Linked DNA regions of Homo sapiens. The protein of the gene in region 1 interacts with the protein of each later gene in a biochemical or structural test. Each region holds a gene or a part of one and is shown in the gene's direction. Other genes may lie near its edges. The genes, in order: DCP1A, PNRC2, EDC3 and NSMAF.

Region 1 (5,615 bases):
CTGTGGTGGTTGGACTTGGCTTCCCGTAATGATTCTAGGACATTCTTACATAAATGGGCTGGTCATCCTTTAGCTAATGGAAGTTTATAACCAGATGTCAGATGTTCACATGTTCCTACTGAATGTTTACCTGAACTCAAAATAGTCTGTCTCTGTGCTCCACTCTTCTGCTGCTTATGCCTGTTTCCACATGGTCCCTATTCTGGGCCTGGCTACTGGCTTCTGCACTTCGGTACAAAATGACCATTGTCACTCTCCAGGTTGCAGGCGCCCCACTGGTTACTGCAACGACCACTGCAGTGTCTTCAGTCCTGCTGGCCCCAAGTGTTTTCCAGCAGACAGTTACAAGATCTTCGGACCTTGAGAGGAAAGCCAGCTCCCCTTCTCCTCTAACTATTGGAACGCCAGAAAGTCAGAGAAAGCCTTCCATTATTCTCAGCAAGTCTCAGCTCCAGGATACATTAATACATCTAATAAAGGTATGTAGGATACCAATTTTATCTTTGATTTTTCATTATTTAATGAAAGAAATTTTATAAATTCCTCTTACAGAATCAGTTCATAAAGTAAATTCAAAAGACTAGCTGGAGGCCAGGCAAAGTGGCTCACACCTGTAATCCCAGCACTATGGGAGGCCAAGGCAGGCAAAAAAAAAACAAAAACAGACTAGCTGGGAGTACTGTTTCTCTTTTTTTAAGCATACAGTCCTGGTGGAGAAATATCTGCATGAACTCAAAATATTAATCATGATTGTCTCTGGGTGGTGGGATTATCAGTTATACAAATCATTTATACAATTTTTTTCCTAAGCTGTTACCAAGGAAGTAAAATCTGATGAGGTAAATGTGGCATTCGTATCCTTAACCTTTACCATCTCTTCTAGAATGATTCCAGCTTCCTCAGTACACTTCATGAAGTCTACTTGCAGGTTCTGACCAAGAACAAAGACAACCACAACCTATGACTGGAGCAGAATAAGTCTAAAGGCAGAGCCCCAGCCTCAGAGACAAATAGGCTTCATCATGGAAACTTCTGAGCAGAACATTGAGTTTGAGAATCCTGAAATTGAGCCTATGAGAAAGAGACTCATTTCTTAAGAATGTTTTCCAAGTGACATTCTCAGTGATAATGGAGGTTTCACTGTGAAGCATCACCAGCAGATCCTTGTTTTGACAAAAAAAAAAAAAAAAAAAAAAAAAAAGAGAGCGATCATTGTGTTAAGTTATGTGGGTGTTTTCATCAGCTAGGAGCAAGGCTGTGGAATAAGGAGTCAGATTCTCAGCTTGCTTTCACTTTCAAGGACTTACAGAGGAGTAGTCACCAGCCTCACAGCAGAAGTTCAGCCCGGCCCCCACCGCTTCCCCCAGCCTACCCCATAGAAACGGGCTTTGGGCTGACAAGTCAAGTTTTGAACAGAGTAGAAGGCAGCTCTGCAAAGTAGCTTCTAGTTTTTAGGACCAGAATTTAAGCCGGCAAATTAGGAATTATTTCCTCAAGTGAAGTATATTTTATATGAATGCCCCATTTGGGCCTTAAAAGTTGTGAAATTTCTTAATAGCATTTTGTTTTTAAGTGCCCCAGTCCTGCCCTGCAGCAGGCCCCCAGTGCAGCATTACCATTTGAATAGGGCACTGTCAGGCTCTGGTGGTGTGGACACAGGCATGTCATACCTTTGAAGGAAAGGCTGGGGCTGGGAATGCCCACATCCTATCAAATCTTCATTTTAGGTTAAACTCTCCATTGGTTCTGAAAATGCTAAGTTTGTGTGTGAAGCACAGCCTTATTTTCCTTTTCTGTCATTGTTGATTGTTTTCCTTAACACTTTGACAAAAGGACCAGTGGACCAATCTGACAAAGCCATTCTGGTTCCTTTCCTTGAGTGTACTGAGAATAGTTTTAAAGCTATGCAGAAAAGGGAGCTGTTATTCACACTGCCCTTATTTTGTTGTAGAATTATGGAGTTAAAAGAAAATGTGATTCCGAACTCTACCAATGTATTCCTAGGCTGTGAGTACTTTCCCGGCCCAAAGTGTGAAAATATGTAAAGAAGCTTTGTTATGCTGCTATTGATCTGCCATGATTTCTATTTATTCTTTTATGGCATGTAATGGTGTTTAGTAATATTTTAATGTAGATTTTGATTTATTTCAGCAATAGTAATTTTAAGATATTCTTTGAATGAAAGTGTCTTCGTTTCTATGATACAGGTCATTTTGTAGTATTTAACCAATTAAGATGCACTGCTTACTTTTCTGAGCACTATTTAATGATGGGGTAAAAACCCAATTGGCTCAACCAGCTAGCATAAGGATTAGCTGTGAATAATGCTGACAGATATGATGGTTCCTTAGGAACAATCATTTAAGCTTTAATGGTAACTCAATCATAAGTCCATAGATTATTTTTTTCTAGCTAAAATTTTAGAAAATTACTTGTGAATTACATACTTGTTTTAGTTTGGTCTTAGTTTTTAGCATAAAGAATGATTGGCTTTTGTTGATCTAAACATGCTTCCTGGACAGGGTTTCTGCTTCTCATTTTAGTGTCTTCTATTGCTGTCTACCTAATTATGTGTGAATTGTGCAGAATTCAGGGAAGCTTATAAGTTTTCATGCTCAATTGTGAATAGTTTGTTTTCACAGATAGTATGTAAATTAAGCAACCAAAAATGAATTCCTTATGCATCATCTGGGAACGAGAAAGCTATAGTGGGATACAGAGTGTTGCTGACACCGGGAGATGGTGTCCAGGGAGCCACGTGACTTCCATAAAGTGGACGCACCAGTAGGTGTGATTGCACCTCAAGTGTAGTCTCAGTGGGCTTCGGTGAACAGACGAATCAAGGGATTCTTGAATCGAAATTATGCTTTTGAGTATGTAATATTATGAGAGAGTTAAGAGAGAATATCCTAAAGAGAGTCTGTGATCATACTAATTTTCACCTTTAATGCTAGGAATGGATATGATAGACAGTAAAGAGCATCTATGATAAGGCTTCCTTAGTGTGAAAGTAAACTTAAGTGCCCAAGTCATGGAGACTTGAAAAGGGTAAACCTGTTTCACCTCCCAAATTTATATATTCAAAGTATTTACTTAAAATTCAGAAGCCAGAAGTTCATGTCATGATTACCAGGAAGTTCAGGCCAGAATGAATCCCTAGAGAAGCCAGGCCAAGCCTGGATAATTGCAGCTGGATGACCCTGGCCCGAAAGTCACAGTTCAGTTGCCTTATTCCTAGTTCAGGCTTACTATCTAGAACCTCATGCTAGCTTAGGTTGCATGTTTACATTGCTGCAGTGTCTTTACTGGAAGCTTAGTTGGATCGAAATGGACACCGAGATGGAGATGCTTCTGGCTAGATTTCGCAGAACCCCAGGAGACCTGCATTTAGACCACTCTGTCCATTTGTGTGCCCACCCCCACCCCCAGGGTCTAAGTGTAGACTCCAAGAGGAGCAGCCCAGAGCTTGGAGGAGAGGTGTGTCTGGGGCACCACTGGTGGGTGGTGCTGCTCTTCTTTTTGTTGTAGTTAATGCGGTGTCTTTTAATGGACTCTCAGGCCTCCCAGACAGCCTTGTTCCTTTAAGGCAGAAGCTCTTCTTCATTGTGTACCTCCTGGGATTCATGAGGTGTGAGATTTGGCCTGCTTGACTTTGAATTCAAGTTTTTCAAGTGACTCTCAGTGTCAGAAGAAGCATTTCATGCTGTCCACATGTGGTATGTCCACAGCTCACCTTCAAAGGCTTAGATGTAGCCATCACAGAGAGTGGTATTTTATTAAGAACCCAAGTCCCAGCCTGACCAACATGGTGAAACCCCATCTCTACTAAAAATACAAAAATTAGCCGGGCGTGGTGGCACGCGCCTATACTCCCAGCTACTTAGGAGGCTGAGGCAGGAGAATCACTTGAACCCGGGAGGCAGAGGTTGCAGTGAGCCAAGATCACACCACTGCACTCTAGCCTGGGCGACAGTGAGACTCCACCTCAAAAAAAAAAAAAAAAAAAAAAAAAAAAAAGTCACGCTGGGCCCCTCTCTACAGGGGGACACACAGGCTTAGTTTAGTATATGTCTAACCAGATTTTGCATGTCAAGCATTTGTCCTTTTCCTGGCTTATGTTTTCTTGTAGAAATTATATAAACCCTATCAAATCCACTACTAGGTAAATTTTTAAACCATGCAGCTTTATTACTCTCCTCCCCCAAAGAATGTAGTTTGAAATTTTCTCATTTCCATAGTAGAGGCCCTAACTGCCATTGTATTACTAATAATGCAACATGAAATTGAAGGTGCCTAACTGCTCAAAAAACAAAATCAGCCATCATACTGTAACTCTGAGAGGAATGAGAGGTGGCACAGGCACGAGTGGGCTCAGCCCGTGTGAGTGAGGAGAACTGAGGAATCCTAGGGTGCGCATCCTGCATCCTGGCTGCACGTTTGCTGCAGAGTATGTTTTTCTTTCTTGCCTCCCTTCAGTTTTCTTCAGTTGCGTTCAGTGTATCTTCTGGAACCAATAGTGCCCTGTGTTCTCAAGTCTCTAAAATGCTAAGATCTGAGCAAAGTCAAGCAGCTTACACTAGGCTTTTTTACAGCTGTGCTTGAGAACATTTCCGAGTGGACCAGGGCCTTGAGGAGCCTGTTTTTCAGCAAATTCAACAGATGTGTGCAGTGATTCCCTCCGTTTTGTATTTGACACCTTCATTTAAAATGCTAAGATGCAATATCATTCACTTCAAAGTGGGGAAAATGCAGAATTGTGTTTCCTTTTTATCTGTGTGATTCCTTAAGAAACATGTTTTTAAAATATGTGTTCTAAATGGTTTTTTATTCTGTATTACTGCTTTGGCCATGTGGCTCTCATGACTTTCATTGTACCAGATTCTCAGCTCCCTGAAACATGGGGACGAGAAGCTCTGGAATTACAGCAAGATTTTTGTTCCATGAGCGCAATACTGTATCATTAACATTTTTAATGGTATGGATTTTATAGCATCTGTGTATGTTTGCAAATATTAAGTTATTACATGTTTTAAAATGAGCGTTTTTCATCTTAAATTTTATATGTTTGCAAATATATTTTTTTAATAAAATTTCAAAACCAAGTTTTAGCACCTACTAAAATTTAATTGTGTTTTTATTTAATTTGTAGAAATAGGGACTTTTGAATGAGTTGCACTTTTGCAGAGTGCCATACTGGTGAAATGGGATGAGGCAAAAAAACAGAACCGACAAAACTGTTATCAGATCCTTTTGTACTTCTTAAGCATAAGGATTAGGTGTTCACACACAGGTGTGAGATGGGCCATCCTGAAACATTGCTACAATGTCGGCATATTACCTGTCTGACACAGAGAAAAAAGAAAACTGTTATCTACCTGTTTCCAGCCTGTATAGTCAGGGTTCTCCAGAGAAACAGACCTGAGAGAAGATAGAGTTATGTACCATGTGATATTTCAGTCAACAACAGACCACATTTATGACAGTGGCCCCATAGAATTACAACCCTATTTTTACCCGACCTTTTCTGTGTTTAGATACACATATACTTATCCTTGTGTTACAGTTGCCTACAGTATTCGTACAGTCACATGCTGTACAAGTTTGCAGCGTAGGAG
Region 2 (9,090 bases), on another chromosome or scaffold:
TGTCTCCTTTGATTCTCTTTAGAGCCTCCCATTATTTCTGAGCTGGGGATGGTGTGTCTCTTCCTCATGCCACAGGTGTGAATAGTTGGGGGACAGGCATTGTTATGGTCTTACATGTAAATAGATGGCTCCGATATACCATTATTTTGGGGGGAGTGAGCACGGTGTGTTCCAGATTTCCTCTTCCTATCAATGCAGGTAGCAGTCTCAGCCTGTTTCATAAATTCCTCTCAAGATCGCTGCCCATCTCTCCGTTCAGCCATTGGAGAGATCGCTGCCCGTCTCTCCGTTCAGCTTTGGCCTGGGGACTGAGGCCAAAACTCTGGAATGGGCCAAGAATTAGACGGCTGGGATCAACAAACTAGCAAGGAACCCCATGGCCGAGCTTGGGAGTCCACCTGTGTGAAAATCACTTTTAAAAGCTAATCTAAACAACTCTGGGTGTTCCGGAGCTAGTTTCTGACTTGTTGGGGTTATTTGGTGTTATCACCAACTTTGAGAATTACATAGGACAAAGGGGGTCTCCTTCATAAACATGCCTCCACACCAGGGGATTGCCCTTAGCAAAACTGAAAGCAGTGATTCTCAACTGGAGTGAGACATTGGAATCAACTGGATTGGAATAGCCGCAGCCCCGTGCTCAAAGATTCTGATTCTGGGATGGGGTCTGGGCATCAGAATCCTTTAAGGGTCTTGAAGGTTGGACCCCTGGATCAGCGTCGACAGGAGGCGTGGGAGTTCATCATTGACTTCCTGTGCCCCGTTTAGTAATTAGACCAAAATGGCTGCAATGGTTAAGAACAGATTTGACACTTCTCAGGAATGTCTGAGCAAGCAGGGAGGCAGCAGATGCTTCCCCAGGAAATGAATTCATGGTGTGGGGAGGGGTGTGTGTTTTGCAATCAGTTTGGCAACAAGATCAGAGCTCTGAGGCACATCGAAACAGTGGGCAGGTGTTCCATTTCACTCTTCTGGCAGGTTCTAAGAATTTGCTTGCTTCTTCAAACTGAATTAAGCCCTGAGCGGACAGACCTGCAAAAACATTCAAAGTTGACCATCTGATTTCATATATGAGCTTAAAGAAGAAAAAGAACCAAACCAGCTTTTGTTTTGAAATGGACTCGCTAGGGCGGGGGTGGAGTTGGGGGATAATATTAAAGTACCTAACGTTTTTAGCATGTTCTGTTTATTTTTGAGACAGGGTCTTGCTCTGTTGCCCAGGCTGGAGTATAGTGGTGTGATCATGGCTCACTGCAGTCTCGACATCCTGGGCTCAAGGAATTCTCCCACTTCCGCCTCTCAAGTAGCTGGGACCACAGGGGCACACCACCTCCCACTCCCAGCTAATTTCTGTAATTTTTGTAGAGATGGGGTTTCACCATGTTGCCCAGGCTGGTCCTGAACTCCTGGGCTCAAGTGATCCTCCCGCCTCTGCCTCCCAAAGTGTTGGAATTACAGGTGTATTCTAAATCTACATCATAAAAGTGCTTTTACATTTATTATTTCATTGGCTCCTACCATGAGCTCTACAAGACAGGGAGGATTGCCATTCTACAGATGAAGAAACTGAGACTCAGCCTGAAGGCCAGTCGATTCTACTATATACTTATTCCAAAGCCATGGCAAACCTGGGTGATTTCTCCAACTACCCCGGCACTGGTGCAGTTGTATGCCTCAGCCTACAACCTGTCTCTCCCCCAAAGCTGGGCTTTCAGAAACACTTTCTTTTTTTTTTTTTTGAGACAGAGTTCTGCTGTTGTTGCCCAAACTGGAGTGCAATGGCGCGATCTCGGCTCACTGCAACCTCTGCCTCCCGGGGTCAAGCGATTCTCCTGCCTCAGCCTCCCAAGTAGCTGGGATTACAGGCATGCGCCACACGTCCAGCTAATTTTTTGTATTTTTAGTAGAAACAGTGTTTCACCAAGTTAGCCAGGCTGGTCTCGAACTCCTGACCTCACGTGATCTGCCCACCTCGGCCTCCCAAAGTGTTGGGACTACAGGCGTGAGCCACTGTGCCCGGCCCAGAAACACTTGCTTTTTGCTCCACCTCTACTTACAGATTAGGTAGATAATGTTTTCCTAATGATTTCATTGATTTTGGTTGCCACTGATACATAGCTCAAAACAGATCCTCCAGTGAAAAAATTTCAGCAAGTTGTGAGAGTCCCCCTCCTTTTCTACTTTATTTGCAGGGTCCAGTAACAATGTTTGTTACCTGCACCTCCTGAGTGAGGTTAGCAGGCTGATTTTGGCCTTGCCTGTCCTTGACTCTCAGGGGAAGAAGGGAGGGAATAAATCTTCCCAGACACTAGTTTCCCTCTCTGGTAAATTGTAAAGGAAACAGCTTTTGGGTTCCTTTAGGGCCAGGATGGAGCCTCCTTCACTGCTGTATCCCCAGAGCGTGGCATAGTGCCTGGCACAAAGTAGGCACCAGATAAATCTTTGCTAAATATTTTGTATTAAACATCCATGTATTTATTATGCATTTGGCTTCCAGTTTAGGTGAGCTGTATCCTGAGAGCTGTTTGTCGGCATCAACATTTTCCTATTTGAATTGAGAACTGCTAATAGGATTGTGCTGGTGGAGCTGAGTTTAAAGACCATATGGTTCTGGCAGAGGCTGTATCAGATGTCCCAAAAAAGGTATTATTTTAACTTCTCCTCTCTAGTTCTGAGCTGTTGCGGGCACTTGGTAAATACTAATGAATGATGAGGCTGGAGCTAGCCTGAGAGGGTGCTGGGAGTCTGGGACGCAGTAAAAGCTTTAACAGTGCTTTCCCCAAGGGCATCTCGACTCTGACCTTCTGGCAAAGAAACTGGTTCTGCCAGATGGTAGGATGGAGGCTTCTTGTTGCCCGAACAGCCCCGGCAGCCCAGTCAACAGTCAGTGTCTGCTCTGAGCAAAAAACCTTTTAGGTGCTGGAGAGCACAGATGCTGCAGGCAACCTGCAGCCTGGCCTCTTGAATCCTAGTACCTGGCTTTCAACTCGAAACCGTCTGAGCCTTCATCTGTACAGTGCGGATGAAAACAGCTCCTACCTCACAACATTATTGTGAGGATTAAATGAAATGATGTAAGAAAAAAAAATTTAGCACAGGGTAGGGGGCAGAGTAAGGATACTCTGTGTGGGTTTATACATTTCCAATGTTATGTGTGCGTTTATGCAGATAAAATTCAGAGTGGCTGAAGAGATGAATTTTTTTTTTTTTTTTTTGAGACAGTGTCTTACTCTCACCCAGGAGTGCAGTGTTGTGATCGCAGCTCACTGCAGCCTCTACTTCCTGGGCTCGGGTGATTCTCCCACCTTAGTCTCTCAGGTAGCTGGGACTACAGGCGTGTGCCACCATGCCCAGCTAATTGTTATTTGTAGAGATGGGGTTTTGCCATGTTGCCCAGGCTGGTCTCAAACTCCCGCGCTCAAGTGATCCTCCTGCCTCGGCCTCCCAAATTGCTGAGATTACAGGTGTGAGCCATGCCCTGCCATGAAAAGACTAACTCTAGACTGCAATGGCTTTGAATAATTTTCTAAACGTTTAGAGTTTAGATTTTATTCCGTATCACAATTTGGAGCCACGGAAGTGTTTTTTTGTTTGTTTTTTGTTTTTTAAAGTGACACCATTAAAAATTCATTAAATACAGCTGGCTATTATCTGGCTAGACGTCTAAGCAAACTTCTTGAATGTTTGGAAAACAGATTACACTTTCACTAAGACACCTGTTGGTTTACCACATACTTCTTATTTGAATATGATTAGCATCAGAAAGTCCCTATGCTCAAAAATACCTCTTTTATCAAATTAGATTAACAAACTGCATCCCGTAAGATGCAGTAACTTTTCTTAAGATCCAATGGCTAGAATATAGGAATTTGGGTTGGATTGGGAAGTGGGGGATAACGGTGGCAAAAAATTGAAGATTAAAAAACGAAATACAGGCCGGGTGTGGTGGCTCACGCCTGTAATCCCAGCACTTTGAGTGGCTGAGACGGGCGGATCACGTGAGGTTAGGAGTTTGAGACCAGCCTGGCCAACATGATGAAATCCTGTCTCTACTAAAAATACAAAAATTAGGAGGGTGTGGTGGCAGGCGCCTGTAATCCCAACTACTCAGGAGGCTGAGGCAGGAGAATCGCTTGAGCCCAGGAGGCGGAGGTTGCAGTGAGCCGAGATTGTGCCACTGCACTCCAGCCTGGGCGACAGAAGGAGACTCCGTCTCAAAAATAACGAATTACATGAGATTTATAAAAAGTTGGTAAATATAAATTCTGTAACGTAAACTTGGGTATATATGTGTATACACGAACAAACTGTGAATGAGACTGATTTTGTACCGTTTGGCCCAGAATTATTCACGCTCATTGAAATTAGTGCTCTTTTAAAAGATTCACATTGGGTTACTTATACATTTACTCCAAAGAAATTGCCATTTTCCCCTTACCTGCATCTGGCTGGCATAATCAACTGAACAATATTCTCTTTCTTCCCCTTTTTCACTTACAAGTGGGGCAGAAAGGGGAGGAGAGCAGTCCTCATTCTTTCAGCAAACTTACTGTGCACTTACAACGCGCGAAGGCGCTGTGCTCAGAGAAACAAAACCTAACCGGTTGTGGCCCTCGAGGGTGTGTGGGTGGGGAGAGCTGCAGCCACAGGAAACGGTAACACGGCGCGTAAAGGGCTCTAATTGAACTTAAGGACCAATGGGGCCACCAAGCAGGAAGTGACTGACTTGCCCGCGTGTGTCTGAACCGCCTTCACAGGGAGGCAACTTTTGAGTAATTGCGGGGCTGGAGGGTGGGGGCACTGGAGGGAACCGCGGGGAGGCGCCGGCTTCGGACGCGGAGTTGTGGGTGTGGGAGAGAGGCGACCCAGAAGCCGAGGCCCGAGGCGGGAGGGGGCTGCGCCCTGGCAAGAGGCTTTCCGGAGTATCTTCCATCTGTCAATACAGGCTACAGGACTCAGTGGCCCTAATTCGAGAACCAAACGTCCCCCGCCGGTCAGTCTTTTCCCCCAGGGCAGTCCCAAGGGCGGCGAGCCCGCGCGCACGAGAGCCGAGCGGTAGGAAGAGCCGAGAGCTAGCGGCCGGGGCCTCGGCGGGCCAGGGGCGCGGAGAGGCCGCCGGAGAAAGGACTAAGACACCGGTGGACCGAGCAGTTACTCCCGGCATGCTCCTCCTCCCCGGGCAGATTTCAAACCCTCTGCAGCCCCACCTCCGCGCCTTCGCCCCCGGCCAGCCCCAGCAACAGGCGGCGGCCCGCTTCTCATTGGCCAGGCCCGCGCTGTCGTGTTTTGATTGGCCGCGGAGCCTCCCGGCCCTGCTTCTGCAGTCGCTGCCGACTCCATTTTGTCGGTAGAGGCAGAAGGAGAAGGTCGGGTTGTAGAAGCTGGGGTGGCCGGCAGCTCGCTCATCGGTGTTCGTGGGCTTTGTCGGTCCGTGCCTCGTCTCTCCCTGGAAAGGGAGGGAGGCTTCGACGTCGAGAGGGAGCCGCTGCCGCGTTAGTTCCGAGCTTGAAGTCAGTAAGTAGCGGCTGCGCTAAGGGCGCGGCCATGTTGGTGGCCGCGCTCCCCATTGTTGGAGGAAGGAGGCGAGCGGAGGCGAGATCCGGGTAACCCGGGCGGGCGCGGGCGGTCACGGGCGGTCGCAGCGCCGCGACCCCTGCGGCTCCGGAGAGATGGGGCCACTGGGAAGCCAAGCCCTTGTGGCGTCGGAGGAGGCGTTTTCCGGGTTCGAGTTGGGAATTACTCACAGTCCGGAAATGGCAATTTATTTAGGGTTGTTTATCTGTTTGGAAAGCTCTCTTACCCCTTTGAAAGGAGGGGGCTTAACTATTTGGTAACTTATTTTCTTGGAACATCAAATTAAAACCAAACCTTGAAAGTTAAGCTGTTCCCTCTAGGGAGACATTTTTATATATTTAAGATGGGCTTAGACTGTTAGGGCTTGTGAGAACTTATTTTAAGACGGGGAGGAGGCGAGAGCGTTCATAACCAAAGGAAACACTGCGTGATGTCTACATGTTCCAAGAGACTGAAAATGGATGTGACATGTGTGGAAAGATTGGAAAATTCTGGTGGGAGTTTAAAAACACGGTCTCTTTAGAAAATCCGCCTGAAGCCAATTTTTTGATATGACTCAACATTTAACACTTCCTTGATTTTATACGCGAGAGAATCTGAAGGTCTTTCCCAGGAAAAAGATAAAGATAAAACTTATTGCGGGACTTGGAGACACTTACAAAAATTCCCCAGGAGTGACTGGATCTCAAGGGTGAAGAGTTTTTTTAAATGGTCGTGGTTATAAGGTCAAAGAAAGCCATCTTACGAGAAATTTTCTACCTTTTAGTTCAGGAAGTAGCCTTCTTTACAGTCAACGATTTTCGTAGTAAATCTAAATGATCACTTTCTCAACGTGTTTTTGAAATAATGAAGTAATCTTTACTTTTCTAGCTAGGACTTCTCTCAAACTTGTGTGCTGAGGAGACTCAGATGTTGGCCTCAGCTCCTAGGCTGAACTCAGCAGATCGGCCCATGAAAACTTCTGTATTGAGACAAAGGAAGGGATCTGTCAGAAAGCAACACTTGTTATCTTGGGCTTGGCAGCAAGGAAGAGGACAGGTAGTGGAGATCCTGCAATCTGAAAAGCAGACTGAAAGGTAATCATCATAATGGGCAAACATTTTATGATGGAACCATCCTAAACCAATTGTTTTTATTTTAAAATAGATTATGTAGATTTGTGGGTAAGCTCATTTTTCTTAGGGAAGGTATAACAATAAAGGTTGTGCATATATTGAAGTCTGAACGGCTTGCTTTTTTGAGTTTAAAGCAGCTGAATAGCCTGTTATTGAGTCTTGTCCAAAATATCTGGAGTTATAAGTTGGAGCCATAGAAGCTTCTTAAAGATTTTGAACTTTTCTTAATGGAATTTTACTCAATATTTGTTTCCATTCACTTGTAGGTGACAAAGAAGCTGAAGATGGGTGGTGGAGAGAGGTATAACATTCCAGCCCCTCAATCTAGAAATGTTAGTAAGAACCAACAACAGCTTAACAGACAGAAGACCAAGGAACAGAATTCCCAGATGAAGATTGTTCATAAGAAAAAAGAAAGAGGACATGGTTATAACTCATCAGCAGCTGCCTGGCAGGCCATGCAAAATGGGGGGAAGAACAAAAATTTTCCAAATAATCAAAGTTGGAATTCTAGCTTATCAGGTCCCAGGTTACTTTTTAAATCTCAAGCTAATCAGAACTATGCTGGTGCCAAATTTAGTGAGCCGCCATCACCAAGTGTTCTTCCCAAACCACCAAGCCACTGGGTCCCTGTTTCCTTTAATCCTTCAGATAAGGAAATAATGACATTTCAACTTAAAACCTTACTTAAAGTACAGGTATAAAATAAGACAAATGTTTAAATTTAGTTATGTTCACGGATAGTTGTCAATTGGTCTGAAACAAATTCGCTAGGGAATCTATTTGTGTAGAACTAATTAATGTAAAAAAAATAGACCATCTCGTGTTGTGTGCACTGTGATATAATGGTAGTATCAGTGCAACTTAAACTAATGATTGTACTTGATATTAAGTGTTCTCAACTGAGTAACTTTTAAGTGGAAACCAAGTTTAGATTTGGGGAGTGGTAAAGGAATCAGCTTTTTCTATTGTTAGGGGAAGACAGTAATTTATCATTCATGGACCAGTAGATTGTTGAAAGTTGGTGAATCGGATTATAAGCTTCTAGCTAACACAAGGATTCAGAATTAGGTAAACATCTGAAGGTTTAGTATATTAGAAACACCCAAACCAGTAATATGCTAACCTGATGCACTGCTGAAAGAAAATGTGAATTTTTCGTAATAATTGCATTTTAGTGAATTGTACAGTGGGTGGAAAGGGCATTTGGAGCTCATTAGAATGAGACATAGTACACCCCAATGGCCCTGTTTATTAAATGTAGTGGATTAAGTGTCTGTCAACAAATACACCAAAACCATTTTTTATAGAAACAGTATTTAATGGTCACTCAATAGCTTTCAAAATACATTTTTGTATTACAGCACTGCACAAGCTATTCTAATAGTGCTCTGGCCTCATCATTCCTGCAAAGCTTGCTTTGGGGAGTTGGATAATGTGAAAATTTTAAGTACCTAGGGGAGAAAGAGCCATGTAAATATCTGTAATAAACTTGTAGCATATGTAAAGTTTTCTTGGCCTTTATCTTACAAAAATGGAGTATTTTAGTATGAATTTGCTGAATGTAAGACCGTGGACTGTTTTTTATAATATGGCCTAATTTTAAAGGTCCAAAATAACTTGTTTTTAAAGTTTGCCCTTGTGCTAAAGTGCCAGTGTATGTATGTTATACTTGATTTGGTTGTAAACTATATTTCAAAGTAAACCCTAGTGTAATAAGTTTTATAACTAAAAAGGTTTAAGCTGCTAAAACTATTTTTAAGAGATGTGAAATGCAGTATGGGACTATCTTTTTTTCCTCCTCTAAGCCCAAAGATTAACTAGAGTCCCTCCAACCTTATAGATTGTTGGCTTTCACAATCTTATAACCTAGGATACAGGTAGTTTCGAGTATGGTGCCAGTGATGTTTTGTTTTTGTTTGGTCAAGGGGTAGGTGCAACCCAATGGACCACTTATGCAAAAGATGTAAACTCTTGCATAATACATTGATAACATGTTTTGCCAACTTTAAATGCTTAAACATAAGCGAAACCAGTAGCAAGTATGTGGGTCAGCTTAAAAATTTTGATTGTTAATGCCCTATTTTCTAATTTGGCACCTCTTGATGCCTAAGCAGGTAAGCAGATGCCTAAGCTGTATTTCTCCAAATAAATCAAGATGAAGTACTGCCCAAGTTAAATATTGATAGCCTAAAGACAAGTTTATGTAGTACTTAATGTACATGATATGAATGTGAAGCATAAAATTAAATAAAATTTTTCCCCATTGGCTTGGTTTTATTTTAAAAATGGTTTTGATTGCTTAATATTCTTTTTAAAAATGTGTTTTACTTGTCACTGACTTGAAGCTCATAATACACTCACAATATTCCAAACTCTTGGATTTCTCAGACTCCAGAAC
Region 3 (8,438 bases), on another chromosome or scaffold:
TTTAACACTTAAAAAAAAAAATTTTTTTTTTTTGAGACAGAGTCTCACTTTGTTGCCCAGGCTGGAGTGCAGTGGTGCGATCTCTGCTCACTGTAACCTTTGCCTCCCAGGGTGAAACGATTCTCATGCCTCAGCCTCCTGGGTAGCTAGGATTGCAGGTGCGTACCACCACACCCGACTAATCATTTCTATTTAGTTGAGACAGGGTTTTGCCATGTTGACCAGGCTGGTCTCGAACTCCTGGCCTCAAGTGATTCGCCTGCCTCGGCCTCCCAAAATGCTGGGATTATAGGCATGAGCCATGGTGCCCAGTCCATTTAACACTTTTGATTGAATATGTACTTGTCTTTTCCACTGACCAGACTGAGTTCCTGTGGGCACGTAGTGGTTTTCATCTCTATATACCAGATCAAAATAGTTCATAGTGCAGGGCTTACCACATAGTAAGTATTTTATATACTCCTGTTGAATGAGCGAGGGAGTGAATGAATGAACAAAAGCCATTAAACATTGTGGGAATGTAAGATTAATACAGTTTTGTTGTTAGCAATAGCCTCTCTTTTTTTTTTTTTTTTTTTTGAGACAGAGTCTCGCTCTGTCGCCCAGGCTGGAGTGCAGTGGCGGGATCTCGGCTCACTGCAAGCTCCGCCTCCCGGGTTCACGCCATTCTCCTGCCTCAGCCTCCCAAGTAGCTGGGACTACAGGTGCCCGCCACTATGCCCGGCTAATTTTTTTTTTTTTTGTATTTTTAGTAGAGACGGGGTTTCACCGTTTTAGCCGGGATGGTCTCGATCTCCTGACCTCGTGATCCGCCCGCCTCGGCCTCCCAAAGTGCTGGGATTACAGGCGTGAGCCACCGTGCCCGGCCAATAGCCTCTTTTTAAAGGCTAGCATTGTGTCAGTTGGATAGTTGGTGGCTGACCCCTGTCCTTAAGCACACAGCCCCCTTTCCTAGCCTCTGATAACTCAATAAAATGCAGTCCTGCAAAGGGGTAGCTGTTTGCTAATGATCTCAGTTTCATCATTCTTACCACTATTATAATTTTGAGACTTGGCTTTTTTGTGTATTTCAGGGCAGGTGACATTACGGAGTTAAAAATTCTGGAGATACCAGGACCTGGAGACAACCAACATTTTGGAGACCTTCATCAAACAGAATTAGGCCCCTCTGGTGCTGGCTGCCAAGTGGGCATCAATCAGAATGGCACAGGCAAGTTTGTCAAGAAGCCAGCCTCTTCCAGCAGTGCCCCTCAGAATATCCCTAAGAGGACAGATGTGAAGAGCCAGGATGTTGCCGTTTCCCCGCAGCAGCAACAGTGCTCAAAGAGCTATGTCGACAGGCACATGGAATCCTTGAGTCAGTCCAAAAGTTTCCGTCGTCGGCACAACTCCTGTAAGTAGGGTCAAGTTGATATTTCTTCTCAATCTGGTGTTTCAGGGCTATAAGCCATAAGCACTGCTGCTCTTTAAACAAATCCTTTGTTATTCCAATAAAATGGATGCTGGCTGAGCGTCACAGAAATACAACATGGTTCTCTTCCTCCAGGCCTCATTCCTCAAGATGTTAAGGGAAAGGAAATAAGCTGTTAGGGATGCCTGTGAGCTTCCTGCCCTCTCTTACCACTTCCTTCAGGAAAAGTCTGCCCAGAGTTTACTAACAGTGATGTTTTAAATCCAGGAACTACTGGGCGTGGTGGCACGCATCTATAGTCCCAGCTACTTGAGAGGTTGAGGCAGGAGGATTGTTTGAGCCCAGGAGTTCAAGGCTAGTCTGGGCAAAATAGTGAGATTCTGTTTCTGAAAAAGAAAAAAAAAAAAACTTAAATCCTGTTACTGATGTTGGTAGTAGTGTTTGAGTTGAACCTGCACTTGGGCTGTTCCAGAGGATTCTTGAGTAACTTTTCTTCCTGTGATTTGAGTCTCATCCTCAGAAGAGAGGAGGGGACTGATCCAAACATCTCTGTGATCTTTGATTTTCTAGCAGACAATTTTTAATTTGCTGTATTTGTTCCTACTGACACACCAAGAAGAATGTGCATTGGTCTCTGTTGCTGCCCAGTTTTGTTTGATACTAACACATTATTAAATGCCATTTGCTGATTATAAAACCATAGTTGTGACCAGGCACGGTGGCTCACACCTGTAATCCTAGCACTTTGGGAGGCTGAGGCGGGCAGATCACCTGAGGTCAGGCGTTTGAGGCCAGCCTGGCCAACATGTTGAAACCTCGTCTCTGCTAAAAATACAAAAATTATCCGGACGTGGAGGTGCATGCCTGTAATCCCAGCTACTTTGGAGGCTGAGGCAGGAGAATCCCTTGAACCCAGGAGGCAGAGGTTGCAGTGAGCTGATATTGTGCCACTCCAGCCTGGGCGATAGAGCGAGACTCTGTCTCAAAAATAAAATAAATAATATAAAATAAAACCATAGTTGTGTTGGTGGTATGATGGTGAGCATAGCTGCCTTCCAAAACCATAGTTAATTCACTAGAACTGTTCTTCTCCAACATATTTACTAGAATAATGTTACAATAGCGAATCATAACATTCACTGGAATCTGTTATGCTCCTTAAATTAATATGAATGTTGTTTTAAAAAATTACTTCCAAATGCCAAACTATTCTTATTTTACTTAGATGGTTTTGTACTCACAGATGGTAGCAGAATGTATTAGAAATTTTAAGTGAGAGGCTGGGTGCAAGTGGCTCACACCTGTAATCTCACTACTTCAGGAGGCTGGGGCAGGTGGATCGCTTGAGCCCAGGAGTTCGAGACCAGCCTGAGCAACATGGCAAAACCCCATCCCTACAAAAAAAAAAAAAAAAAAAAAAAAAAAATTAGCTGGGCGTGGCAGCGTGCACCTGTGGTCCCAGCTACTCAGGAGGCTGAGGTGGAAGGATGGCTTGAGCCAGGGAGGCGGAGGTTGTGATTAGCCAAGATCATGCCACTGCACTTCAGCCTGGGTGACAGTGTGAGACTGTCTCAAAATGAACAACCAAAAGAAATTTTAAATGAGTATTCATTAACTCATTTAAAATTATAAGCTAGAGTCATGCTATGGCAATACCTTCTAAAAGGCACAATTTAGAGTGAGCTAGGTCTCTCTAGACCCCACTCAGAAAGTTTATTACATAAAATTCCGGATACTTCTTGCTACCATTGTTGCTCCTCACACTGTGGTCCTGGTGGCAATGTAGTAAGGTTTTAGTGTGCTGGGTGAATTCTATTAGTAGCTTGTGGTGTGACACCTGTGTCAGGGGCCAACATTTTAAGTTTTGGAGATGCCTGATTCAAGTGAATAAACAACTAAATTAAAACTAATTTTTTTTTTTTTTTGAGATGGAGCCTTGCTCTGTTGCCCGGGCTGGAGTGCAGTGGTGTGATCTTGGCTCACTGCAACCTCCACCTCCCATGTTCAGGTGATTCTCCTGCCTCAGCCTCCCTAGAAGCTGGTACTACAGGCACTTGCTGCCATGCCCGGCTAATTTTTTTTTTTTTTTTTTTGAGACAGAGTTTCGCTCTTATTGCCCAGGCTGGAGTGCAATGGCGTGATCTTGGCTCACCGCAACTTCCGCCTCCTGGGTTCAAAAGATTCTCCTGCCTCAGCCTCCCGAGTAGCTGGGATTACAGGCATGTGCCACCACGTCTGGCTAATTTTGTATTTTTAGTAGAAACGGGGCTCCATGTTGGTCAGGCTGGTCTCAAACTCTCGGCCTCCCAAAGTGCTGAGATTACAGGCATAAGCCACTGCGCCCGGCTAATTTTTGTATTTTTAGTAGAGATGGGATAATGCCATGTTGCCCAAGCTGATTTCGAACTCATGACCTCAGTTGATCTGCCTGCCTCGGCCTCCCCAAGTGCTGGGATTACAGACGTGAGCCACTGCACCTGGCCTAAAAAAATGTTTTAATGTATGTAATATACAGTTTCAAGGTAGTTTCCTTTGGTGCATATGAAACAACTATCTGAAATGACGATGTTTGCAAATATGAGACTGAAATTCAGTTGTGACTTCTGTATCCTTAGAAAAACTGTAGAATGCTTGGATAGAAAATGATTCTTTCCATTTAGACTTTAACCTTTTTCTTTCTTTCTTTCTTTCTTTCTTTCTTTCTTTCATTCATTTTTGAGACAGGGTCTTGCTTTGTCACTCAGGTTGGAATGCAGTGATACGATCACAGCTCACTACAGCCTTGAACTCCCAGGCTCAAATGATCCTCCCACCTCAGCCTCCTGAGTAGCTGGGACTACAGGTGTGTGCCACCATACCTGGCTAGTCTTTTTACTTTTAGTAGAGACAAGGTCTCACTATGTTGCCCTGTCTGAAAATCTTTTTTCTTTTAGCAGAAATTGTTGATTTGTTAGAAGTTCAAATAGGCAGTTTATAATCTTCCGTGCACTTGAAGATGACCCTTATTAGCAATTCATATTATTTTTTTCTACACATTTTTCCCCGTTATTAACGTCTTACATTTGTATGGTATACTTGTTATAATTATTGAACCAATGTTGATGCATTATCATTAAACAAAGTCCATATTTTATTCAGATTGCCTTAGTTTTTACCCGGATGCCCTTGTTTCAGGATCCTGTCCAGCATATCACATCATATTTGGTAGTCATTTCTCTGCTTGGCTCTTACAGTTTCTCAGACCTTCCTTGTTTTTGATGACCTAGACATTTTGATGAATACTGGTCAGGTATTTTGTAGAATGTCTCTCAGTTGGTACTTGATGTTTAAATCATGATTAGACTGGGGTTATATGTTTGGGGGTGGAAGACAACAGAGGTAAAGTACCATTTTCATCACCTTGTGTCAAGTGTATATATTATCACCATGGTTTATAACTTTTGATGTTCACCTTGATCACCTGGCTAAAGTAGGATATATCTAGTTTCTCCTCTGTAAAGTGACTCTTTCTTCCCCTTTACATATGTACTCTTTGGAAGGAAATCACTATGTGCAGCCCACACCCAGGGAGTGAGAAGTTATGTCCCCTCTCCTTGAGGACACAGCATCTTCAGACATTACTTGGAATTCTTTTATGCCAGAGATTCCTCTCTTCTCCCCCATTTGTTTATTTATTCAGTCATTTATTTATATCAGCATGTACTCATGGGTATTTATTTTATACTTTGGCTTATAATTCAATATTACTTTATTTTGGTACTCAAATTATTTCAGTTTTGGCTAGTCTCCAATCTTTCACTTGGATCTCATGTCCCTTTGACATACTCCAATCATTGTGGATTTTATTTTTTTTTTTTTTTAGTACTTAGGTACTTTCTCACACTGAAAGATGCTTACTACTACCACTACTACTACTACTACTGCTGCTGCTGCTGCTTCTCCTCCTCCTCCTCCTCCCTCCTCCTCCCTCCACCCCCTCCCTCTCCCCCTCCCTCCTCCCCCCTTCTCCTTTCTTTCTTCTTCACTAGGGATGCTCATTGCTCCTGGGTGTCACCCTTATAGCTGACAGCAAGAAAATGTGTATACTTCTCTGCAGAGTTCACAGAAAAGAAAATATATGTGTGTATATTTAACCAGCATATATATACATATTTAAATATTTCTATATGTAACTATGTATATTGTACTATACTAAGTATGAGTTCATACTGATGTCTCCAACTTTAATCCATTACCACATGGATCCTTCTAGCCTTCTCCTTTTGCTTGTCTGTTACTTCTCACTCCAACAGTGAGAAACCTGTCTCCTATTGTCATTCATTCTTTACATAATTATTCAATTCCAGTATACATGTATAGTGGTATCAGAATTATTAACTTGTATCGCCATTCCTGTGGGAGACTATCAAACAGAATGTGGTGCTTACGTACTGTTTCTTTTGCCTTTCATCTGACTCCATTCATTTCTAGAGTTATTTAGGTCTCCCATTTCCTTCATTGACTTGTTTCATATATTCATAATACAATTAATTTGTTTTATCACATTCTGCATTCCATCCTGGGATCTTCTAACCTCCTAAATGATTTTTAAAAATTTGCAAACACTAAGGCTCACTCTTTGTGCTGTAAAATTCTGTGGGTTTTGACAAATACATAGCATCATGTATCTGTCATTACAGTATTAAACAGAATAGTTTCATTGTCCTAAACAATCTCTTGTGCCTTACCTGTTCAACTTCCCCCACTTCCCCCTGGCAACTACTGATCTTTTTATTATACCATCCCTGCAGTTTTGCATTTTTCCAGAATATCACATAATTAAAATCATACAGTATGTAGCCCTTTTCAGACTGGCTTCTTTCACTTAGCAAGATGCATTTAAGATTCATTCATGTCGTTTTGTGACTTGATAGGTCATTTCTTTAATTGACGGATAATGTTCCATTGTGTGGATATATCAATTTGTTTACCCATTCACCTATTGCAGGACATCTTGGTGGCTTCCAGGTTTTGGTTATTCTGCTTTTGCTGTTTTGTCAGTTTCCTTTTTCTAGATTGTTAACTGTACATAAATGAGGTAAAGAGATCATAGGGCAGTAAAATGTTACTATTTTTCAAGAAACTTATGTAGAATCCAGATTAGTTTGGAAAATGTTTGTGGCCTGGGAATGGCAATAAGACGTGGCTCAGAATAGGTTTCTGATAGAAGGTAGAGTTATAATTATTTTTCCACTCATTGAGCCCTGTAAGTAAAAAGGTCTGCCTTAGAATTTTCTCCAGTTTATGTACATTGATATTGAGACTAGTAGATTGATGAAGCTATAGAAATATAATCTGTCGGCCGGGTGTGGTGGCTTATGCCTGTAATCTTAACACTTTCGGAGGCTGGGACGGGCAGGTTGCCTGAGCTCAGGAGTTTGAGACCAGCCTAGGCAACATGGTGAAACCCCGTCTGTACACAAATACAAAAAATCAGCTGGGTGTGGTGGTGGGTGCCTGTAATGCCAGCTACTCAGGAGACTGAGGCACAAGAATTGCCTGAACCTGGGAGTCGGAGGTTGCAGTGAGCTGAGATTGTGCCACTGCCCTCCAGCCTGGGCAACAAAGCAAAACTCTGTCTCAAAAAAAAAAAAAAAAAGGAAAGAAAGAAATATAATCTGTCTTCAGTTCTGGCTTTTAAGTGTTCTTTCAGGATTGCAATAAGGAGTTGAGGAATTTGTTGGTTTATAATAGTTAGCTAATCCAACACTGATGATTTAGCACAAGCAGATTTTAATCTCTTTTCGGGTGGGAGTGGGTTTAAAGAATCATGTAAAGAATAGTTTTTCTGTGACCATTCAGAATGTTTGTCAAATAGACATAACATCAGTCCCAGGGAGCAGAGGGAAACCAAGCCTTGTTTAGGGTGCAGCTCTGTGTATGGGTATAATTCATATTTATCAAATCCCATGTCACAGCTGAAAATGGTGACCATGAGGGGCAGATGAAAGGCATCCCTCTCTGAAATCTTAGTCTATGAGCTTGAATAGTCATTGTAACATGCAGTTGAATAAAAATTTAACAGTTAAGTTAAGGCTCTTTTGCCTGTAGAACATGAAAGTAGATAGCTGAGGCTGGGCATGATGGCTGATGTCTCTAATCCCAGCACTTTGGGAGACTGAGGTGGGCAGATCACCTGAGGCCAGGAGTTCGAGACCAGACTGGCCAACATGACGAAACCCTGTCTCTACTAAAAATACAAAAAATTAGCTGGGCCTGGTGGTGCATGCCTGTAATCCCAACTACTTGGGAGGCTGAGGCAGGGAGAATTGCTTGAACCCGGGAGGTGGAGGCTGCAGTGAGCCGAGATCGTGCCATTGCACTCCAGCTTGGGCAACAAGAGTGAAACTGCATCTCAAAACAAACAAAGTAGATAGCTGGCCTTTAACTCATTTATATTTAGAGAGAGGTGGTCCTATAGGCATGACAGTGCCTCTGTTTAGTGCTGATTTCCCTTTTTCTCTTTGTTACTGGAGGTGGAGAGAAATGAGGGATGGAATTGAACCTTTTAAATGGAAAGATGGTCGATATTATCTTGTTGCAGTATGGTTGGGCTTTAACGGTCTGTTCATTTTAACAGTCATCCCACCACCTGAGGCAGGAAGTGAATTTTGCCAGGTTTTCATGGTTCTACTGAGGTTTTCTTGACTTTTAAACTTCCTTGGATGTGCTTCATATATCTAATAGGCTTGAAAACCCAGGGCCTAGAATTTGAGAGTTGAGAAGAAGGTCCCATATATTCTCAGGCACCTTCTCATGATGCCTGTTTAATCTGGCAGTAAAACATTTGTAGTTTAACATTCAGGTACCCTTTAGTGTGATAAGTGCAGGACAAAGTTCCCACTTACAGTGTGTGTGTGACAAAAACCAATAAATAAGTGGCACTGAGGGTTACACAACAATGGGTTTGTTACAAGTTGTCCTGGCCAAAGGGCCTCTGTGCCAAAGGGTGGCAGAAAAACGGCACAGGAAGGCAGCCAGCCTGCAG
Region 4 (8,438 bases), on another chromosome or scaffold:
CAATGATTCTGTGACCTGACTTACCTCTGACTTTTTCCCCTCTAGCACCAGAGTATATGCTGTGCCTGCAGAATGGAAGATTTGATAATGCAGATAGAATGTTCAACAGGTTTGATACAAATGCCTTGCTTATCATTTTTAACACTTTCTGATTGTATATATACAACATACTTGTTTCAAAGCACTGGATATAATAAAAAAGTAAAGAAATGTAAAAAATCACTAATTGTTCTATCTATTCCTCTCAGGCTTTTTCTAGACATGTATATGTGTGTGTAAATGTGAGAACATATTTTATGTACAGCTTTTTGTCCTACCTTTTGTAGCCTAATATTAAATCTTAAAGTTTTTCCCATATTATTAGATATTCTTCAAAACAATGATTCTTTTTTAAAATTATTGTATCACATTCTAACATATGCCATATTTTATGTCAACTTCTTTTCTCCATTGTTGGGCATTTAGATTGTTTCCCACACTTTATTATTCTTGATAATTTTGCTGTGAATTGAATACAGCTCCCTGTGTGTATTTAGATGGCTTTACTTTTTAAATTATAAAAGTAATATTTTCTTGCCAAAAAAATCAGCAACTATAAAAAAGGAAATAAGTTTACTTGGTATCCCACCACACTGAGATAATAATTGTTGTAAATTTTTTGGTATGTCCTTTTCATTTTTTTTGAACTCTACACATATCTAATAATAATTCCTTTTGCAATGAGCCATTCAGATAGTGGTGCTAATCTTTTTTTTTTTTTTTTTTTTTTTTTGAGACAGAGTCTTGCTCTGTCGCCCAGGCTGGAGTACAGTGAGCAGAATCTCAGCTCACTGCAACCTCCGCCTCGGGTTCAAGCGATTCTCCTGCTTCAGTCTCCTGAGTAGCTGGGACTACAGGCGCATGCCACCACGCCCAGCTAATTTTTGTATTTTTAGTAGAGATGAGGTTTCACCATGTTGGCCAGGATGGTCTTGATCTCCTGACTTCGTGATCCACCCGCCTTGGCCTCCCAAAGTACTGAGATTACAGGTGTGAGCCACCGCGCCCTACCAGTGGTGCTAATCTTTCAGTGTGGAGGCACCCTGCTCCATTTGGCCCTTGGATGAGGCAATGTGTATATGGTAGCTAATGGTGTGGACTCGGACTCTATGCCCACTCCCGCCATGTGACCCTGGAGAAGTTACATAAACTCTCTGGGCCCCAGTGTTCCCTTTTGTTAAAGTGGGACACTCAGAGAGATGGTTAGAACTATGTGGAAATGACAAACAGAAGTTAATACAGGTAAAGTGTAGAACAGCCCCCAAGTGCATAGGAAATGCTGCTATTGCTATTTCCTTAGCTGAAAATAGGTGAATTTTTTTTTCATATGTAGTATTGCAGAAACTTGGAAAAACTGTCTGGATGGTGCAACGGATTTTAAAGAGGTAAGCAGTTAATAAAGCTGATGAGTAACTGGACTTGGGGTTTCTAACTGCTTTAAAACATGTTTGTTGTTCTTTTTTATTTTTCCCCGAAACTTTCAGTTAATTCCAGAATTCTATGGTGATGATGTGAGCTTTCTAGTCAATAGCCTGAAGTTGGATTTGGGAAAGAGACAAGGAGGACAGATGGTTGACGACGTGGAGCTTCCCCCTTGGGCTTCCAGTGAGTCCCCCCTTGGAGGTGTTGTATTATAGACATGCTTTACCAAGTAGTGCAATTTCAGTAATTATTTTATTGCTTAGATTTTTAAAAATCACAATATAATTCTCTAAATAAGGATATATGAGCCCTATTCCATATCAGAAGTATTCTATGAGTCTGTGATGTAAAAACATTAATATATATTTGAGAGACCTTAATGTGAAAATGATTCTTGCCACTTTTTTCCCCAAAAAACTTACATTTCATATGATAGAAAAAGAAAACTGCATTAAGAAATATGGACCTCTTGCCTGTCCTAGAAGCTTTATATACATATAGATAGACAAGAGAAATGGGAGGAAAAAAATGAAGACTCCATGATTTTTCGATTGAGTCTAATCTAATAGGTCCCGAGGACTTTCTCCAGAAGAGCAAAGATGCATTGGAAAGCAATTATGTGTCTGAACACCTTCACGAGTGGATTGATCTAATATTTGGCTACAAACAAAAAGGGAGTGATGCAGTTGGGGCCCATAATGGTATGTAATATTCATTGAAATTTTATTTAGCATTGGGTGAATATTTAGCATTATTCATTTTCATTGGAAAATGAAAGCAAACAATACCAACAAAAAAATGAGGCCAAAGCAATTAGTCTTATTTCTTCAGTGGAAGCATGTTCTGTCAGACTCCAGCGTCCACTGGCTGCATGACCCTGGATCAGATATTTTTTTGGTTTTCTTTTTGAGATGGAGTCTTGCTCTGTCACCAGGCTGGAGTGCAGTGACACAATCTTGGCTTACTGCAACCTCCGACTCCCTGGTTCGAGTGATTCTACTGCCTCAGCCTCCCGAGTAGCTGGGATTACAGGCACCTGCCATCATGCCCAGCTAATTTTTTTGTATTTTTTTTGGTCGTGACGGTTTCACCATGTTGGCCAGGTTGGTCTCAAACTCCTGACCTCAGGTGATCTGCCCACCTCGGCCTCCCAAAGTGCTGGGATTACAGGTGTGAGCCACTGCGCCCAGCCCCTGGATTAGATATTGAGTAACTGACAAGGAGGGAGGACTTTTGCCCAAATAATACCAAATTCATCCTGGCCCCAAGAGGTCTTTTTATAAAGTCTTCTAATTTTAGCATATACTCTACATCCCACTGAATAATTTCAATTAAAACTCTATTACAGTGTGATAGAACAGTGGCCTCAATTCCTATGGAAGACCCAGAGTTTCTTTTCCTTTTCTTTTCTTTTTTTTTTCTTTTTTTTTTTTTTTTTTTTTGTTTGAGACAGAGTCTTGCTCTGTCACCCAGGCTGGAGTGCAGTGGTGCAGTCTTGGCTCACTGCAACCTCTGGCTCCTGGGTTCAAGCAATCCTCCTGCCTCAGCCTCCCAAGTAGCTGCCAGAGTTTTTTTTTTTAATTTAACAGAAAATAGCAGCAATATACCTTCTCTTCAGTTTCAATGCTTATCTTCTTCCACGTTTCTCATGTGTGTTTTCTTTTTTTAATAAATGAACTCACATATAATCCATATCGCCCATGTTCATAACAAGGAGCTGTAGCTGGAAATTCAGACCTAATTTTTTACATGGAAATTCCGTCTTATTAATTCTATAAGTCATGCTTCCTCTCAGGAGAAAACAATGCTGACTGAGATGACAGGTCCTCTACCTGACAAGTAGATTTTTGTTCATCTGAAGATAATATTCAAGTTGGTATTTACTGCAGTTGGATATTAGTCTGTTTTGCAAAGTGAATAGCAATTTCTTTGAACATGAGTTTTAAGTTGTTGCATTGTTTAGGTTCTAAACAGTGTATATTACATTGAAATAGCACATCTTTCAATAGTGTTTTGTATGTCTTTTTCAGTATTTCATCCCCTGACCTATGAAGGAGGTGTAGACTTGAACAGGTACTTATATGTCAATAAGGAGTTTCTACTTGAGTTATAAGATATGTCTTTATCTAAATTATTAATGTATTTATTTGAAGGTTGAGGTATGGAAATTTTAAAATGAATTCTATCTTGCTTTCACTGTTGTGTTACTGAGCATCAGAAAATATTCTGAAGGTCTATAATGAGGTTTAGACAATCCTGGTACATAGTTGCTGTCATTATTTGAGGGTTAGTCCCTCCTATTGATCAGTACTATTTGAAATGCGTGCTTTCAAGGAACTCGAACCTAGTGGTTCACTGCATTATTTGTGTTCTGTCCCAAAGCATCCAGGATCCTGATGAGAAGGTAGCCATGCTTACGCAAATCTTGGAATTTGGGCAGACACCAAAACAACTATTTGTGACACCACATCCTCGAAGGATCACCCCAAAGTTTAAAAGTTTGTCCCAGACCTCCAGTTATAATGCTTCTATGGCAGATTCCCCAGGTAAATTTTGTAAAGAGAATAAACGTGAGCACCTTTTGTTTCTCTTCTGTGATGAAAATGTTTCTGAAGAGGAGATAAGACGTATACTGTTGTGCTACTTAGAGATGATTGTGTTCTCCTGCCTTATTGCAGTTCTCCTGAAAACAGATACCTGTTTTTGCTGATGTTGTTTGTTTTCAGCTATAGACTGTAAGGGAAATCAAATCGCTTTTATTTTCTGGCAATTGAATATGAGTGAAAGTTGGCCATATATGTTTTGATGTGGTTCTCTTTCTCTTCTGTGGTTTTGAAGCTGGTGTTTGATCCTTAGCTATTTGCCTTTTCATTCTTACAGTCCTAGCTGTCCAGTCTGCCTTCCCAGTCACTGTCAGCCCTGCTGTCTTCCAGAAGGGACTTTCTCTGGCCCTAATTATGCTCTTCTATACCCACATACAGATCTTTTTTTTTTTTTTTTTTGAGACGGAGTCTTGCTTTGTCCCCCACGCTGGAGTGCAGTGGCGCCATCTCGGCTCACTGCAAGCTCCGCCTCCCGGGTTCACGCCGCCGTTCTCCTGCCTCAGCCTCCTGAGTAGCTGGGACTACAGGCGCCCGCCACCACGCCCGGCTAATTTTTGTATTTTTAGTAGAGACAGGGTTTCACTGTGTTAGCCAGGATGGTCTCGATCTCCTGACCTCGTGATCCACCCTCCTCGGCCTCCCAAAGTGCTGGGATTACAGGCCTGAGCCACCGCGCTCGGCCCCACATACATCTTGAATTCAAAGTGCTCTCTCTTCTTCATTGGATTTCACTTATTTAACATTTGACAAACATTTACAGGGTATCTGTTCTGCGCTGGGCATGTGCTAGGCACTAAATTGAACTTGACCCAGTTCTCACATCTAATATTTGGAAAGGTAGGAAAGAACACTCACCTTTCTCCAGTTACCCAGGTTTTAGATTTTACCTAAGACAACTTCAAACCTACAGGCTTCCAGAAGGAGGTTGACACTCTGTGGAGCTTTGGGAGCAAAATCACTTTTTATCTCCTATCCTCCTGTCTGTTCCAAGGACATCCAGACATTTTAGGCATACATAGATGAGCATTCTCTCAAGCATGGAGAAATAGCTTCCTGGAGTTACATGACCCAGGGGTAGCTTCTTTAAGAGAGAATACTCTAGAGGGTTAAATCATGAAGATCACAGGATTATCTTGTGATGCTGTTTCAAACTGCACTCTGCTTAGTCACCAGGCTGTAACCACTGTCATGTGATTGTTTTAAGATGGTAATTGTTTCAGCCCTTCTTAAAGCAGAAGTAAAAGGATTACTCCTGCCAGAAGCCCTTGCGGTAATTGATTTCATCTCTGCTTTCCCCACCCCACACCAGAACAAAATTGTTGCATTCTTAGGCAACTGTCAGGTTTTTGAAACAATGTTGACAAGGAAATGATGACTCAGTCTTGTATTTCCCCAAATTCATAAGTTAGAGGCCGAGTGAAAACTTTGCAAACATTGTTAAAGTATAAAAAGATTCTAGTATTATTCAAAGATACTTTTTATCTTTCTCTATACAATTTTTTCCTTGACTAACGTGGAACCATCTAACAGGTACATTTCAAAGCAGTTATATTGTGACAGGGTGTTTCATTTCTTAGTTGTTTGATTTTAATAGAAAATATTGTTAATCTGATGCTGTTGTCTGTTGGTAACTTAGTTGACTTAGCAAAAATTTAATGTCGTCTCTCCAGGTGAAGAGTCTTTTGAAGACCTGACCGAAGAAAGCAAAACACTGGCCTGGAATAACATCACCAAACTGCAGTTACACGAGCACTATAAAATCCACAAAGAGTAAGAATATCTCTGCTTCTTCTCAGCAGCTGATAGTCCTGGTAAAAGTTAGGGTCTTGGCATGGGATTAAACTGTTTTAAGCTGAGTCAGAGGGAAAATTCCCTTTCAATGTTGTCTTTATTTTTAAAAATCTCCCCAAAATGTCTATAGTGATCTCCACCTGAGGTTGATGTAGTAGGGAAAGTTTGGCACGAAATGATTTGTGGTGGCTACCGTGCTGTCATTTCTGCAGTCTGTCACTTCACAGTACAAGATGTGGTCGGCAGAGAGCAGCCAGTTTTGTGCCTCTCAAATTGGAGTACACAGCTCCTTGAATCTTTGATGGGAGAAGTGTGATGTATACCCCACGAGTGTTGGATTTACACATAATGTAGGTGAAAAGGCACCTTTTAAAAAAATTAGCTCTCCCAGAGAACATTGCAAAGTTCACATGAATTTTAAAAATAATTATGCTTCTAAGAAATTGGGCTTGCTGTTGGACCCAGAGATGATATGTGTGTTCTCTGCCCTCTCTCATTAAGACCTTCATGTTCTCTGGTAGAAAGGCTCGAGAAGCACTGACCTAGCCTGTTCATCCTGCTACAGAGAGGAAACCCAGGTCCAGAGACTAGGCCCCACCTAGCTCCATGACGACAGACAGCCCCTCCGGCATACAGGTCATGGGTGGAGCTGGGCATACTGCTGTGCATTAGATGGATGGCTTCACATCACAGTCCAGCCTCCCGAAGAGAAACAAGGAGTTTTGGCTGATTCATGATGACAATGGCTGTCTTTTCTCAACTTCTCTAAATGGCACATAGGAAGGGACCTTGTAATCCAAGGTAGTGAAGACTGAATGATCCTTTAAGAGGACAGGCTGGAACCAATTTTCTCATCATTGAATAGTCACTGAGTAAATTAGCTTCAGTAATCAGCAAGTGAAGTGACTGTGAAGAAGAGTTTGTCCTTTTGGTGATGGTCAAACGAGGGGGAATAGAAGGAGAAGAGTTTTCCAATTGCCAGAAATTGTCAGGAATATGTAAAGCATTGCATGTGGAACACAGGGAAGCAAAGAGTGGGGATGTTTTCTAGCCACAGGCGTTGCCAGAACGTTAGAAGGTGCCAAGCAGTGATTTGGTAATGGCAGGTTTATGCTGGGACAGATCCGGCAGACATGCTGTGAAGAAAAAAATTAAGGAAACTTGGTAAAATTAAATCAAGGATATGAAACAAAGAGGGTATCCTAACACATGATGAGTAGTAATTTGTGAAACTTTGTTTTTGAGCAGAGCAGTTACTGGAATCACGGTCTCTCGCAATGGATCTTCAGTATTCACAACATCCCAAGGTCAGTGTTCCTCCCCGAAAGGCGGCTTAACCAAAATCCTAGAATGTCTGAGTTCTTTATTATTTAGCTCGTGGTCAAGGACTGCACTTGCATGTGCTGCCTCCACATAAAGTAAACTTAGAGCAGTTCCTTTGTGGTACATTACATAGAGTTTCATGGTAATTTGCCAAAAATAATAATGAAACATCTTTCTGTTGCTGATGAGGTTTCCCAGAGTTGAGGATAGAGGACAGAAACAGCCTCCTTTCCACACCCTTGCTGGGTCAGGCACTTCCTGCCTGCCCATGAGAGGTGCGCTGTCCACTTGTTGGGGTTGGCTGTGAGTAGCAAGTGCTGTATCAGAAATTGATGTGTGCCTGTCAGCACGTGGAAATGCAGATTTGCTGTTACGGTTTGCAGTTTTGTCATTCAGTGTATATTTCTTCGGGATATTTGATTTAGCTCAAAATCAAATTCATGTATTATTTAATATGCTTATACATTATCAAAATTATAAAAACCCTTGCAGTGTGTCATTGATATGACTTATAGCTGTAAAGCAGAAAGCATCCCTTACTATATACACCATTGTTCTCTCCCTGGTAGTCTGCATTATATATTATTCATTAAAGTATGTCTTGGCCTTGTCATGTTGAGAGCACTGTGTTGGCACTCTGGAAGATGCAGAGATGGAAGGGTAGTATCTTTGCTTCCTGCTTCCATGAGAAAACAACTTGTTCTGACAAAGTTTGTAACTTTATAAAGTAAGGCTACTCGTTATTTAGTCTTTATCATAGGAGATTATATTTTTCATTCATTAAGACAAAGTGCTATCCAACTAAACACTTTCAGGAAAATCAGAATTACTACTCTCAGATTCTGTTATCATTGTTTATGATCTGTAGCATTTCATTCTGTTCTTTTTCAAATACTGTCTTGGATTGTATATAAAAAAATTTTCCACAAAGCATAGAAGTGATTCTACACAGTAGATCAAAAGGAAGTTCATGTGCAGTTCCCAAACTGGGCCATGCCAGGGTCACCGAGGCACTTCTCTGATAGAAGGAAGCAATCTGTATTTTGCCAGGATTTCTACCTGTGGAGTTTGCCAAAAATTATAGCCTCAGACAAAGTGCTTTATCTTTAAGCAAAACCTGTGTTCTTAGCAGGATTTGTCTGGGATGGCTTGTTAAATCGTTCAGCACAGTTGTACTTGTATGACCTTGTTAACCATGAATTTGATGAGCGTTGTGGCTTCAAACCACTGAGGCTTATTAAGCATTATGTCACTCCTCTG

The links.
Region 2: the proteins of DCP1A (region 1) and PNRC2 are reported together in a solved structure, tested with the Homo sapiens proteins (one study listed by IntAct).
Region 3: the proteins of DCP1A (region 1) and EDC3 form a complex in vitro, tested with the Homo sapiens proteins (one study listed by BioGRID).
Region 4: the proteins of DCP1A (region 1) and NSMAF form a complex in vitro, tested with the Homo sapiens proteins (one study listed by BioGRID and IntAct).

The regions. Positions count from the first base shown.
Region 1 is NC_000003.12:53,282,929-53,288,543, reverse strand, and holds the end of DCP1A (mRNA-decapping enzyme 1A), read left to right. Parts: intron 1-260; coding exon 261-479; intron 480-883; coding exon 884-964; 3' UTR 965-5,115; downstream 5,116-5,615. UniProt on the Homo sapiens protein: Necessary for the degradation of mRNAs, both in normal mRNA turnover and in nonsense-mediated mRNA decay. Removes the 7-methyl guanine cap structure from mRNA molecules, yielding a 5'-phosphorylated mRNA fragment and 7m-GDP.
Region 2 is NC_000001.11:23,954,485-23,963,574, forward strand, and holds PNRC2 (proline-rich nuclear receptor coactivator 2), read left to right. Parts: upstream 1-5,343; 5' UTR 5,344-5,514; intron 5,515-6,444; 5' UTR 6,445-6,650; intron 6,651-6,955; 5' UTR 6,956-6,973; coding exon 6,974-7,393; 3' UTR 7,394-8,978; downstream 8,979-9,090. UniProt on the Homo sapiens protein: Involved in nonsense-mediated mRNA decay (NMD) by acting as a bridge between the mRNA decapping complex and the NMD machinery. May act by targeting the NMD machinery to the P-body and recruiting the decapping machinery to aberrant mRNAs.
Region 3 is NC_000015.10:74,664,410-74,672,847, reverse strand, and holds part of EDC3 (enhancer of mRNA-decapping protein 3), read left to right. Parts: intron 1-1,073; coding exon 1,074-1,393; intron 1,394-8,139; exon of another isoform or gene 8,140-8,438. UniProt on the Homo sapiens protein: Binds single-stranded RNA. Involved in the process of mRNA degradation and in the positive regulation of mRNA decapping. May play a role in spermiogenesis and oogenesis.
Region 4 is NC_000008.11:58,592,956-58,601,393, reverse strand, and holds part of NSMAF (protein FAN), read left to right. Parts: intron 1-45; coding exon 46-109; intron 110-1,372; coding exon 1,373-1,424; intron 1,425-1,523; coding exon 1,524-1,644; coding exon of another isoform or gene 1,645-1,662; intron 1,663-1,897; exon of another isoform or gene 1,898-2,030; coding exon 2,031-2,162; intron 2,163-3,470; coding exon of another isoform or gene 3,471-3,491; coding exon 3,492-3,534; intron 3,535-3,843; coding exon 3,844-4,007; intron 4,008-5,318; exon of another isoform or gene 5,319-5,334; intron 5,335-5,537; exon of another isoform or gene 5,538-5,594; intron 5,595-5,734; coding exon 5,735-5,834; intron 5,835-6,539; exon of another isoform or gene 6,540-6,624; coding exon of another isoform or gene 6,625-6,656; intron 6,657-7,103; coding exon 7,104-7,162; intron 7,163-8,438. UniProt on the Homo sapiens protein: Couples the p55 TNF-receptor (TNF-R55 / TNFR1) to neutral sphingomyelinase (N-SMASE). Specifically binds to the N-smase activation domain of TNF-R55. May regulate ceramide production by N-SMASE.